Homo sapiens: one gene and its partner. The protein of the gene in region 2 interacts with the protein of the main gene of each other region in a biochemical or structural test. Each region holds a gene or a part of one and is shown on either strand. Other genes may lie near its edges.

Region 1 (7,046 bases), on a different chromosome or scaffold from region 2:
CTGTAAAATGGGTTGGTGAAACTTCCCCAGAGTTGTGAGGCTTAAAGTATGTAAAACGCCTAACACGTAGGCACTCAATAAGTATTACCTTAGAAATCTTCCTATCCAGTTTTTCTGAATGGTCTGGAAGCACCTTGTATGTAGTGGACTACAGCATGTTATCCTTTATGTTGTTTATTTCTTTTCTCATTAGCTATGAACTTTTTAAGGCCAGGAATTCCTAGTGTTTACCAGAGAATGTGTTACTAGATGTCTTAGTCTGTTCTGGCTGCTATTACAAAACACCACAGACAGCATGGCTTATAAACAACAGAAGTTTATTTCTCACGGTTCTGGGGGCTGAGAAGTCCAAGATCAAGGTACCAACAAATTTGACATCTTAGTGAGGGCCCTCTTCCCTTGTTCATAGATAGCTAGCTGTCTTTTCACCATTACCTCATGTAGTAGAAGAGTAGACGGGGCTCTATAGGGCCTCTTTTATAGAGGCATTAATTCCATTAATGATGGCAAAGCTTCCCAAAGGCCCCACCTCTTAATACTATCACCTTGGAGGTTAGGCTTTCAACATGAATTTTGGGGGACACATTCAGACCACAGCACTAGAGCAGGCATGAATTGGTTATTGGTAAATCAGTAAATGATCAACTAACATTTATTAGGTTCCTCCTGTGGCTTCTATGAGCTGAGCTAAGTACAGGACCCACAAAGACAAGAAAGATGTCTGTCTTTTTTGAATGCTTATAGTTGAGTGACTTTCTCACATTTGTGTGTGTGTGTGTGTGTGTGTGTGTGTAAAACCCTATCACATAATGGAACTTCATTTTCCCATGCCCTTCCAATCTAAGAGCAGTTCTATGGACTCAATACCTCCTACCCACCAGCTGCTACTGTAAAGATTTACTTTTTTACTCCTTTTAAAAAGTTCAACCCTCTGGCACATGCATTACTTCATTCCTTGGTCCCAGCCCACCACCCCAGTATCTGGCACGTAGTGTATTAGTATTTGTGTGTGTGTGTGTGTGTGTGTGTGTGTGTGTGTGTGTGTGTGTGTGTGTATGTATATAGAATTTAAAATTTTTACTCCGGCAGTTGTCTTCAAATACTCTAATTTTGGGGGGCATGATTATCATTCTGTCTTCTGGCAGTACATGGATAGATGCTACCTGAGTAGGATTGTCTATGAGGTCAGCTGCTCCAGTCATTTTATACAAGAGGAAATTGGAGTGCAAAGCTTTAAAATGATTTTCTTAAAGTCACCCAGGTGTCAGAACCAGAACCAGAGTCCATGTCTCTAGTTCAGGACTCTGCACACATTGGCACATGTTCTGTCCTACCTTTTGGGATGAATAGTTATACTTGCTTTGTGATTACTCACCCACCTTTTTGGAGACATATGAGTGTTTTGTACACTATTAATAGAAGGCAGCCTTCACAAAATGCCATCTGCAGATCTGTTATTTCTTCTAATAAAGGAAATGATGTAAAATTACCTTAAATAGAAATAGTGTTAATTCTTCTGGAGACATATTCCATAATCCAAACACGAAATGTTTGAAATACTTGAAGATGCCATATAAATAAGTCCTTTGTAAAAAGATAATATTAAAAATTTTTGTTTTATAGAGATGGGGGTCTCACTGTGTTGCCCAGGCTGGTCTTGAACTCCTCAGCTTTTACTTTAGCTTCCCAGTGTGTTGGGATTACAGGCATGAGCCACAATACCTGGCCAAGTCCTTTTTTTTAATCAAATGACTTATTAATACACAGTTTCTTTGCCAGCTTTTGTTTTCATTTGCTATCAAAAATGTTGCTTAGTAGTGCTTTGATCTGAGTTATCAATAACAGGTAAATGCCATTATGGATAATAATTCAAAAAGAAGCTTATTAATTATTAGGCCTATCTGAGAGTGAAGTAAAGTTAGCATTTTCTTTTTGTTTATTTTACTTATTGTTTATTTGTTTAGAGACAGGGTCTCGCTGTGTTGCCCAAGTTGGAGTGCAGTGGTGCTGTCATAACTCATTGCAGTCTCAGGCTGGAGTGATCCTCCCATCTCACCCTCCTGAGTAGGTGGGATTAGCATATGCCACCATGCCTGGCTAATTTTTTTATTTTTTAATTTTTTTGTGGAGATGGGGTCTTGCCGTGTTCAGGTTGGTTTCAAACTCCTGGTCTCAAGCGGCTTGGCCTCCCAAGGTGCTAGGATTACAGGTGTGAGCTACCATGCCCAGCTGAGCATTTTTAAAAAATACTGGTCTTTGTACATGAGTCGTTACTATTTGATTCTAAGCCTTATGACTGATATCCCTAAAAATTATTTATAAAATTTTAAGTGCATCAGAGTCATTGAAATGGAATGAGCACTGTCTTTTGGTCTTGAGGTTGTTTTAACTAGCTTCGTAATGGTCATGAGCAGGTTATTTAGCTTTTGAAGCCTTCGTTCCTTCTTTTGTCAAATGAAAGTGATAGTTGCTTTGTTTTAAAAGAGTATGCTTTTCAAACGTGATCATTCTTGAAAATGTAGATTAAGAGCTTTTTAGAGGCCAAGTGCCATGGCTCACGCCTGTCATCCCAGCACTTTGGGAAGCCGAGGCGGGCGGATCACGAGATCAGGAGATCGAGACCATCCTGGCCAACACGGTGAAACCTCATCTCTACTAAAATACAAAAAAAAAATTAGCCGGACGTGGTGGCGCATGCCTGTAGTCCCAACTACTCAGGAGGCTGAGGCAGGGGAAACGCTTGAACACGGGAGGCGGAGGTTGCAGTGAGCCAAGATCATGCTACTGCCTGGCGACAGAGTGAGACTGCCTCTCAAAGAAAAAAAAAAAAACTTTTTAGAAACGTTGTTTTGGGGAATTTTTAGTGTGTGAATTCATTTTAAATATGTGAACTCCATTTGACATGGACAATGGATCTTAATAGTTTGTGATACATTATTCAGTGTATTAATCAAAAGTCAAATCTCTTTTGTAATTTGCTGTACCAGACCTGTTGTGTTAATCTGATCAATGGCAAGTGAATCATAAGATTGACCTGAAAGGAAAAGATATTTTTAGGGGACATAGAATCATATTGGATAAGATTATTCCTATAGTTCATTTTCAGGAAATCTGAACAGGAATCTCGTGTAAGGAATCACATGTGAATTATAGAAGAGAGTCTGATGTAAGACTTTATTTATTAAGGTCTGCATCTGTGTTTCAAGTAAGAGCATAGAGGTAGTATATGAGCCCTGAACACTCATACAAGTAGGATAAAATTTTTCTTAAAACTGTTGGCTGGACAGTGTAGAGTCTAATGCTGTGACTCTTAACAGTTTTGTGTGTTCCAGAAGTTCATCTCCTCAGGATCAATTGAGGTTAGTCTAGCACAGACTTTAGTTATAGAAACCAAACATGAGAAAAATTTTTTGACCCATGTCTTCGTAGCATGCAGGCTTGGTAGCTCTTTCCTAGTTCTGGATGTGTGCCCGTTGTATATACTTTCAGCAATTCAGGATGTTCCTTTTCATATTTAAGACAAGCACTCTTGCATACAAATTACATAGCTGTGGGCTGAATGAAGATGCTACCATTGCTGTACTTCTACACAGGTTCTTTTCATGTAATGAAATCAGAAGGGATGGCTTTTCCATTTCAAGCTTCTGTTAATAAGTAGTCTTAGAATTGCCTTTGTGTACTGTAGCCAACACCCCAACTCATATATTTTTATAATCTTTGTGATGCAGAATAAATTCTGAAACTTTCCACCTCCTAATTAAATATAGAAATACTGAAAACAATAAAGCACCATGTATTCACTATGGACATATGTCACATTTTGTCACTTTCTTGCACTCTTGTAATCCCTCTCTAAAGCTCATGTTAAACTCATGTTCTTTATTTTCTTCTCAGATGATTCCTTTGGCACTGCATGTAACAGTACAGGAATTTCTTCCTTTCGTACTTCCAACAAATACTTTTTTGTCTCTTAACAGATGTGAACCATAATGCTGTTCTTTAGAAAGCAAAGGATGAAGTGCACAGCAGTGTTTTCTATATAAAGCTAATGGGTCATAAGGGGAAATATGGGTTATTTCCAGCTTGTTAATTGTCTTAATACATTTTTCCTAAGAATTCTATTGTGCCTCTGTGGTTATATGCACCAATATTGATAATCTTACAGCGTGCCATAAATAAGGATTTTTATATTATCTTTGCTAAATATTTTAAGTTTTTGTTTTGGGAATTGAAAAAATCTTTTGTGCATCTATGGTATGTGATACGTATACTAATGGATAAATCCTGTTTCACACAAAGATTAATTGGGTAACATTTTTCTTTCCTAGTTTTCTGAAGTCAGTGGTCATGTTGTGTGTTGGTGATTGAAAATATGCTGTTTAGGCTGGGCGCCTTGGCTCACTCCTGTAATCCCAGCACTTTGGGAGGCCGAGGCACACGGATCACCTGAGGTCAGGAGTTCGAGACCAGCCTGGCCAACATGGTGAAACCCTGTCTCTACTAAAAATACAAAAATTAGCTAGGCGTGGTGGCACACGTCTGTAATCCCAGTTACTTGGGAGGCTGAGGCACGAGAATCGCTTGAACCTGGGAGGCAGAGGTTGCAGTGAGCTGAGATCACACCATTGCACTCCAGCCTGGGCAAGCAAGATTTCATCTCAAAAAAGAAAAGAAAAGAAAAGAAAATATGCTGTTTAAGATCATTCAAATTCAGTTTCTAAGAAGTGTAAAGTTTTCCTAATTACTTAAGCTGCTTCATTCTCATTCCCTTTTGTAACACATTTTGCCATCTCTGTAACATGTTGAACATGTTTAAAGAACAGAGTGGGAGAATAGGAAGTTACGTGGATAAAGTTTGGTAATCAAGGTAGGAATACATCCTGCTTCACAGAATGGGAATATTTCTGAAAAGTTGACTGTAGTATTGAAGAACACTTAAGTGTAGTGTATTAGACGAACTGAGCTAATTTTGGTCTTTTATACACATAAATCAAGATTTCTGCATTTCAAATCATGCATATTTCTTTAAATTTATTGCTCAGTGTACTGTATTTCAAATATTGTAAAAATGAAAAGATCTTGTGGTCTTATTTAACTCAGTATGGGATAAGTCCTTCCCACCTTCCCATTCTTATTCCCTCTTTTAGGCTGAATGAAAGGCTGGGGGAGTGAATTTAAAAATAGATGGATCTCAGCTGGAGAATGGGTTGGTCACGTATCTCAACTGATATTAAATAATTTCTTAAATCCTGGATTGAAGATTATAAGAAAACAGTAAATGTTTGCTCTCAGTTCATTTCTTTGTTTTGTTTTTTCATGTACAGTTTTAGGCACTTGTAACTGCTGGATGCATGAACTACTTTCTAGTTCTTTCAGGCCTACTTTTAGATATCTGCTGTGGGGACAGTCCTCAACACTTAAAGTAATTTTAAATAGTGATAGGCAGAACTAGGGGTCAGTTTTACTGCCTATGCCTGTGCTGAATTTGACATGGCATTCCTAGGAGGGGAGGTGGAACGAGGGCGGTGCACACATTGTCCATATTGCTAGTCAGTGCCAGATTTTGAGAAACTGGGGCTAATCTCTCTCTTAAATGGTCAAGATCTAATTCCCCAAAGTGCTGTTTCAGATAACCTAGTATTTGTCCAAAATTGCCCTGCTACAATAGTATTTATCTTATATATATGTATTATATATATAATATATATATAATCTTATATATATGTATTATATATATTATATATATAATCTTATATATGTATTATATATATAATATATATATAATCTTATATATATGTATTATATATATAATATATATATAATCTTATATATATGTATTATATATATAATATATATATAATCTTATATATATGTATTATATATATAATATATATATAATCTTATATATATGTATTATATATATAATATATATATAATCTTATATATATGTATTATATATATATAATACATATAAATATATATATATATATATATATAGGTTTTTTTTTGTTTTTCCTCCTGAGATGTAGTCTCGCCCTGTTGCCCAGGCTGGTGTGCAATGGTGCAGTCTTAGCTCACTGCAGCCTCCGCCTCCTGGGTTCAAGTGATTCTCCTGCCTCAGCCTCCTGAGTAGCAGAGACTACAGGTGTGCACTACCACGCCCGGCTAATTTTTGTATTTTTAGTAGATACAGGGTTTCACCATGTTGGCCATGCTGGTTTCAAACTCCTAACCTCAGGTGATCTGCCTGCCTCAACCTCTGAAAGCACTGGGATTACAGGCATGAGCCACCACACCAATCCTATTACATTCTTAAAAAAATGTTTGTTTGTTTGTTTTTGTAGAGATGAAGTTTCACTATATTACCCAGCCTGGTCTTGACTCCTGGGCTCAAGTGATCCTCCTGCCTTGGCGTCCCAAAGTGCTGGGATTATAGACATGAGCCACTGCGTCCAGCCTGTATCATATTTTTATTCTGATATCTTTTGTAATTTTGTTTTTAGTGAAGTAGGGAGGTTTATATTAGATAATCTTCCAAGGTAATTATCAGCTTGGACATTATATGCTAATATGTCTTTTGTTTGTTTTTAAAATAAGTGTATATGTTTTAATTGTAAAATTTTTAAAACATCCAGAAAATGACATAGCAAGTGCCTATTTATCCACCACCTGGAAATATAAATTATGTCCATTTTTATCCCTTGGGGGAAAGGATGCAGTTATATAATCACTTTTAACAACCCCAACTGTTCAAGTCCTGTTACCCGTCTCTACACAAAGTAACAACTGTCTTGAGATTCTTAAGTAAATTTCACATCCTTGTTTTATACTTTTACTATACATGTGTACATGTATCTGTAAGTGATATGTGGTGTTGGTTTTTGTATTAAATTTTTACAGACATGTATAACGCTGTCTTTCAATAGCTTGATTTTTTTAAACTCAGTATCAAGTTTTTGAGGTGTATATGTTGATGCGTGTACATGTAGTTTATTCAGTTTCACTGCTGTATGGCACTTCATTTTATGCATAGATAAAATGTATGT
Region 2 (5,243 bases):
GAAACAGGGAAATAATGCAAAAATTAATAAATAAGGTTGACGGAGGCATATATGTAAAGCTTGTACTTCAGGAATTGTACGCTTTTGAGATAGTTGGAGGATGGTGGTGAGGCTGCCCCTTACAACCCATGTCACTGATGTGGGTAACTGCTGTATATGGCAGTTATAAGCGTTCAGAATCCAATTTGAACATGGTTTTCAACTATGCAACTTCAAGAAGTGGGATCCTAAATCCCCAAAAGACTACCTATTTCTCTCACTCCAAGGAAGTCCTTAAATTAATGCTTAATCCACAAAAGGCCCTGACTTTTATTCTACAGTTTTAAAAGGTAACTGATGTTCTCCTTGTTAGAGTTAAGCAAAAATAATATACCCAAAATGGTGTTCTGACCGATCATGACGCCACTATGGAACTCAAGGTTTTTAGCTAATTATGAGAACTTCTGCTTACTCCTCAAGTCCAGTACAATCCAGATGTAAGCAAAGGCAAACAAGTTAGGCAAGTTTCAAAAACTTTAATAAAGAAAAAAAAGAAGACACTTCCAAAAATAAATGCCACACAAATGAAAGTTGTTTTTTTTTTTTGTTTAAAGTGAAGATATTCAAGAAACAAAACCCTTTACTATCAAAATATACTAAATATTTAAATCTAGTGATGTTGAGTGTTCAAATTCAGGGCAAATGTAGCTTATAATAATATAGCTAAGTAGAATTTTTCATGATATGGCTGTTTTAAGACATCATTTTATAGATTTACTTTTTAAGCCTATATTTTCTTAAACATCCATTTCACAATTCATTTAATTATTTTACATTCATTTATAAAAACACATATTTTCTAACAATAGGTTATTTTGTGCTTTAATAATAATGAACCATGACAAAATACTCAAGTGATTTAAATGCTTTGCTAATGACTACACCCATCACATATTCTTACATACTTCTACAGCTACTGCAATAATCAGAAGGGCTACAACTGTTCTTAAAAATGACACTCACTCAAGGTTGACAAGCATGCTAAACATTAAAGAGATGTATTTTTCCCCAAGTTAAAACATTAAAACTTTCTAGTTTTCTTTAAAATCTATAAAGATAACCTGCTTATTTAAATCACTTTTCGATGGCAACTTATAAAAACAGAGGGAGGCATAATTTTAGAACTTCCTTTGTAACTTCTATAGTAAAAAAAAAAAAAAAGTTTTTCAAATTGTGATGGCATTAAATTCCATTTTAGAAATTCTAGATTTTAAAATGTTAAGAAATGTAATGTCAATTACATCAGGGTGGGGGCATTTTAATGAATTAATCTAGTGACTGTGCAGGTCTATAAAGACCTTTCTTTTGGATGGGTGATACTGCCTTATACTCATTTCAGTACTTTTAACAAATAATCCATTTAGATATAATCCAAGACAAACCCCAAATTACTCTAAATTCTCCTCTACAGCAAGGGATCAACATATATTATCTTATAGACTGACAATTTAGTAAAGAGATACTAACCTAAAACAATAAAATTTATATAACTAATGGTGACTAATGGCAAACAAAATAGATCTGATTTTCACAATTTGGATGTAATTTTCATGCAAAATTTTAGAGTTTTGATCCTTACTTATATTTTTATTTTTTTAAGTAATCAAGACAAATAGTAGAAAAAGCATTTTATTTATATGGAAAAAGCTACAGTAAGATCTGTAAAAGGTGTCAATATAATATTGCCTATACAGGAAAAAATTCAAATGTGAATAGCAACAAATAAAAGTTACACATCTTCCTACTTAGCAGTGCAATTAATTCACATTGCAATAAAGTTAAGTCAAGTATAACAAAATCAAAACAAGTGTTTCTCCATAATCAGTATGCTGAGAATTACAGTGTAAAGATCATTTCAGATTTAAGAAATCTGCAATCAATCTACAGAATATCCTAAGACAAGGGAGACACAGTTAATTCACTTAATTATCAGCCGTTGGGGTTTTTCAATACTGTTCACAGGAAAAAAGTAATGAGTTGACATACATGTAAATAGAATATATTTAGTCTATACAGTAAAAAAATACAAATTATAAAGTGAGCTAACAAAGAATGAAATCTGAATACAGATTTATAAAACTGACATCTTAGACAACACATACAGTATTTCTCATGTAAAAACATCTAGTTTCAGCAAAAAATAATTTGGTTGCTTTTCAGCTGCATTGTAGATCTTGTAAGCTGAAGATGCAGATGTCCAAGTATCTTAAAAACCATAATAAATGTCTTTCTCAATGCATACAAAATGATAAATGCTCTCATCACAGTCTTAAGGGTATTTTTGGAAGTTTGTTTTGTCTTGCTTCAGAAACACATTTAAAATGGGTAAAAATCAAATGGTTTCATGGTACAATGAAACAGTAAACAGTGCTCAATTTACTGCTAATGTTGAAAAAAACCTAGATTTTACAGTACTCTGGTATATATGAAAATGTTTTTGATTTTTACATTGCATATTTCTGAGTCCATTCTCTTGCATGTCTGTTGTATCTGTAGATACACAAAAAGGATATAGTAAAAACATACAAAATTAATATTTCAGAAGCATCTGTCTAATAAAACTATATATTCTACCTTCTTATACTTAATTGCAATAATCACACATATATCAATTACTGGGTCAATGTGACTTAGGTTCATGCAGAAATAAAACAGGAAAAATAATTTTTTAACTCATGGATTTCTCTGCAACCTATATGAAAATGTATCCAAATACACAAAAATCAAAATGCAGAAACCAGCTTCTAACAGAAATTTACAAAAGCCAATCCTGAAGGAGCATTATCTACAAATTGCAAATGAACCTACAGTACTAGCAAGATGAAGCAGCTTGAGAATTAGGTCAGTTTGGATGGGTACGAGAGAACTCCTCTTCCTTGGAGAAGATAAGCAATATATATTTAATACTTTCCAATGATTAAATTCTTTCATTTTTAATTTATCACCTAGAATATATACATCTATTTTTCAAATACAGAGTATATACTATTGAACAGTAAGTGGGAAGGAACAAGATTTATCATAAAAGGTCTAACAGAGTTCTCAAAGAAAGGTTTACTCCATTGGAAAAAGATAAACAATATACATATAACAACCATAATCAAATTGACTTAAAACATATTGATAATATTCGTGTTTTGGCATACTATATAGGAATGTATCCATACAGAAACTAAAATAAGTAAACACTTACTTTTCTTTGTCTGATTTATAGATTTGTGCAATATCTGGTACTAAGGGGTCATCTGGATTAGGATCACAAAGTAGAGAACATATGGACAATAAAACTAGATTTAAAAGAGAACATCACATTAGACAATAACCCTTCTACTTCATACAAATTACATATGTGAAAATAATTTTAGTGAATATAGATACTGTACTTATAAAAAAAACATAAAATGAACACATCAAATTATATTTTATTCTACTTTGGTTGATAGCAAATTGATCTTTAATTTTTAAAGTTATAAAATTACCATAGGATGCATAAAATATAAAATTATTTTAGCTTTTGAAGTTTTAAATTCCGAGTTCCCATTTATTTAAAAAAATGTGACCCTCCAAAGTAGCTATTAACAACCTTTAAACTTGAGAGTTCTCTACAGAACAATCAAATTACAGTTAACAGTCCAAACCATTTTGGATACTGTGCTCATACACTCTTTTGCTTTGGCTTAGAGCTATAGTCTGTCTACAAAGAAGAAAAATTTGTAAAATTTTTTTCAATGAATCTTTACTTAATGTAGTTTATTTGTATTGCATGCATTTAAAAATAATGTGAACAGCTATCTTTATATAGCTTGCATATTTTAAAAAAGAAATGAAAATTGAAAAAGTAGTTGTTACTCCAGTATGTCAAAATTCTAATGCAAATAGCTACACTAACACACACACACACACACACTAACGATCTAAGTATCTGAAATAAGAGGGAACAAGGACTCTGGTTCCTCATTTGTCTGCTTCAATTGCATGCCACCACTTCTGAGGAGGTTCATGGAACCTCTGGACCAACCTCCCATTTCCACTTGCACCCACCCCACTGCGTTTCCTTTCTATTTTCGTACTCTTTCAAGTCCAAAGGTGGATTTATAGAGCAGAGTTGACTCTTACAATGACAGGCAAAGGGTGGGGGGGTGTTATGAACTAAAGAAAAAATTAGTATTTTATTCATCTTTCTTATCTTCTATCTGCCCAATGAAACTTAAAAGCCTTGTATATTAAACCAACAGGGCAGATTTTCAGGGCTAACTTACAGCCCCAGAATGCTTCCAGACTAACCTCATGATAAAAAGCAAAAGAAGACATTTAAAATATGGAAAAGCTCCAGGCAATGGTGGTATGTGCCTATAATGCCAGCTACTTGGGAGGCTGAGGTGGAAGAATCCTTGAGCTTAGGAGTTCGAGACCAGCCTGGGCAACACAGCAACTGCATCTCAAAAAATAAAAAAATAAAAATAATAAGCTGGGCAAGGTTGCTCACACCTATAATCCCAGCACTTTGGGAGACCAAGGCAGGAGGATCACTTGAGGCCAGGAGTTTGAGACCAGCCTGGGCAACACAGCAAGACTCTGTCTATATTTAATTAAAAAACAATCTTTTAAGATAAACAAATTAAAAATTTAAAAAAATATAGCAAAGTAAAAAATATACAAACAAATGAGCAAGGTATGATCTATCTTATAAAAAAGTAAGCAAGAAGGAAGTTCCTCCTCTGCTCACCCCTACTGCCAGGAGCCATTTGCCCCAGTTTCACTATCATGCACACAAACCATGTCTATCCTTTAAGGTAAGGAAAAGGGTAACAGTTAACATTCATGTAAGTGCCCACTATGTGCTAGGTACATAGCAACCCTGTATGGTAACACTATAAGAATCCCCATTTTACTTATAAGGAAACTGAGGCTGTTTCATTTCTCACAGGATGGTTTCCAGAATCTAACACTACTGATTCTTTATAAAAGGCTACCAATGTCAGAATATAAGTACTCAATATCTGGCAGTTTGCCATTTCTTTTATATGTATAAGGACTTGGCAGTTTATATGCCAAGTGAGATCCATTTTGTGACACCATTCCAGGAAACAGCGTATGAACTTGAATTAACCCTTCAACACAGAATCTTTCATATATCTAATGCATGACAGTTACACTGTGTGAAAGATTCTTAAAAGAATATGAGAATCTATATGAATACTGTA

The links. The genes of interacting proteins can lie anywhere in the genome.
Region 1: the proteins of UBE2D1 (region 2) and UBE3A form a complex in vitro, tested with the Homo sapiens proteins (12 studies listed by BioGRID, with this or other methods).

What each region holds. Positions count from the first base shown.
Region 1 is NC_000015.10:25,428,979-25,436,024, reverse strand, and holds part of UBE3A (ubiquitin-protein ligase E3A), read left to right. Parts: intron 1-7,046. UniProt on the Homo sapiens protein: E3 ubiquitin-protein ligase which accepts ubiquitin from an E2 ubiquitin-conjugating enzyme in the form of a thioester and transfers it to its substrates.
Region 2 is NC_000010.11:58,366,006-58,371,248, reverse strand, and holds the end of UBE2D1 (ubiquitin-conjugating enzyme E2 D1), read right to left. Parts: intron 3,327-5,243; coding exon 3,233-3,326; intron 2,530-3,232; coding exon 2,484-2,529; 3' UTR 501-2,483; downstream 1-500.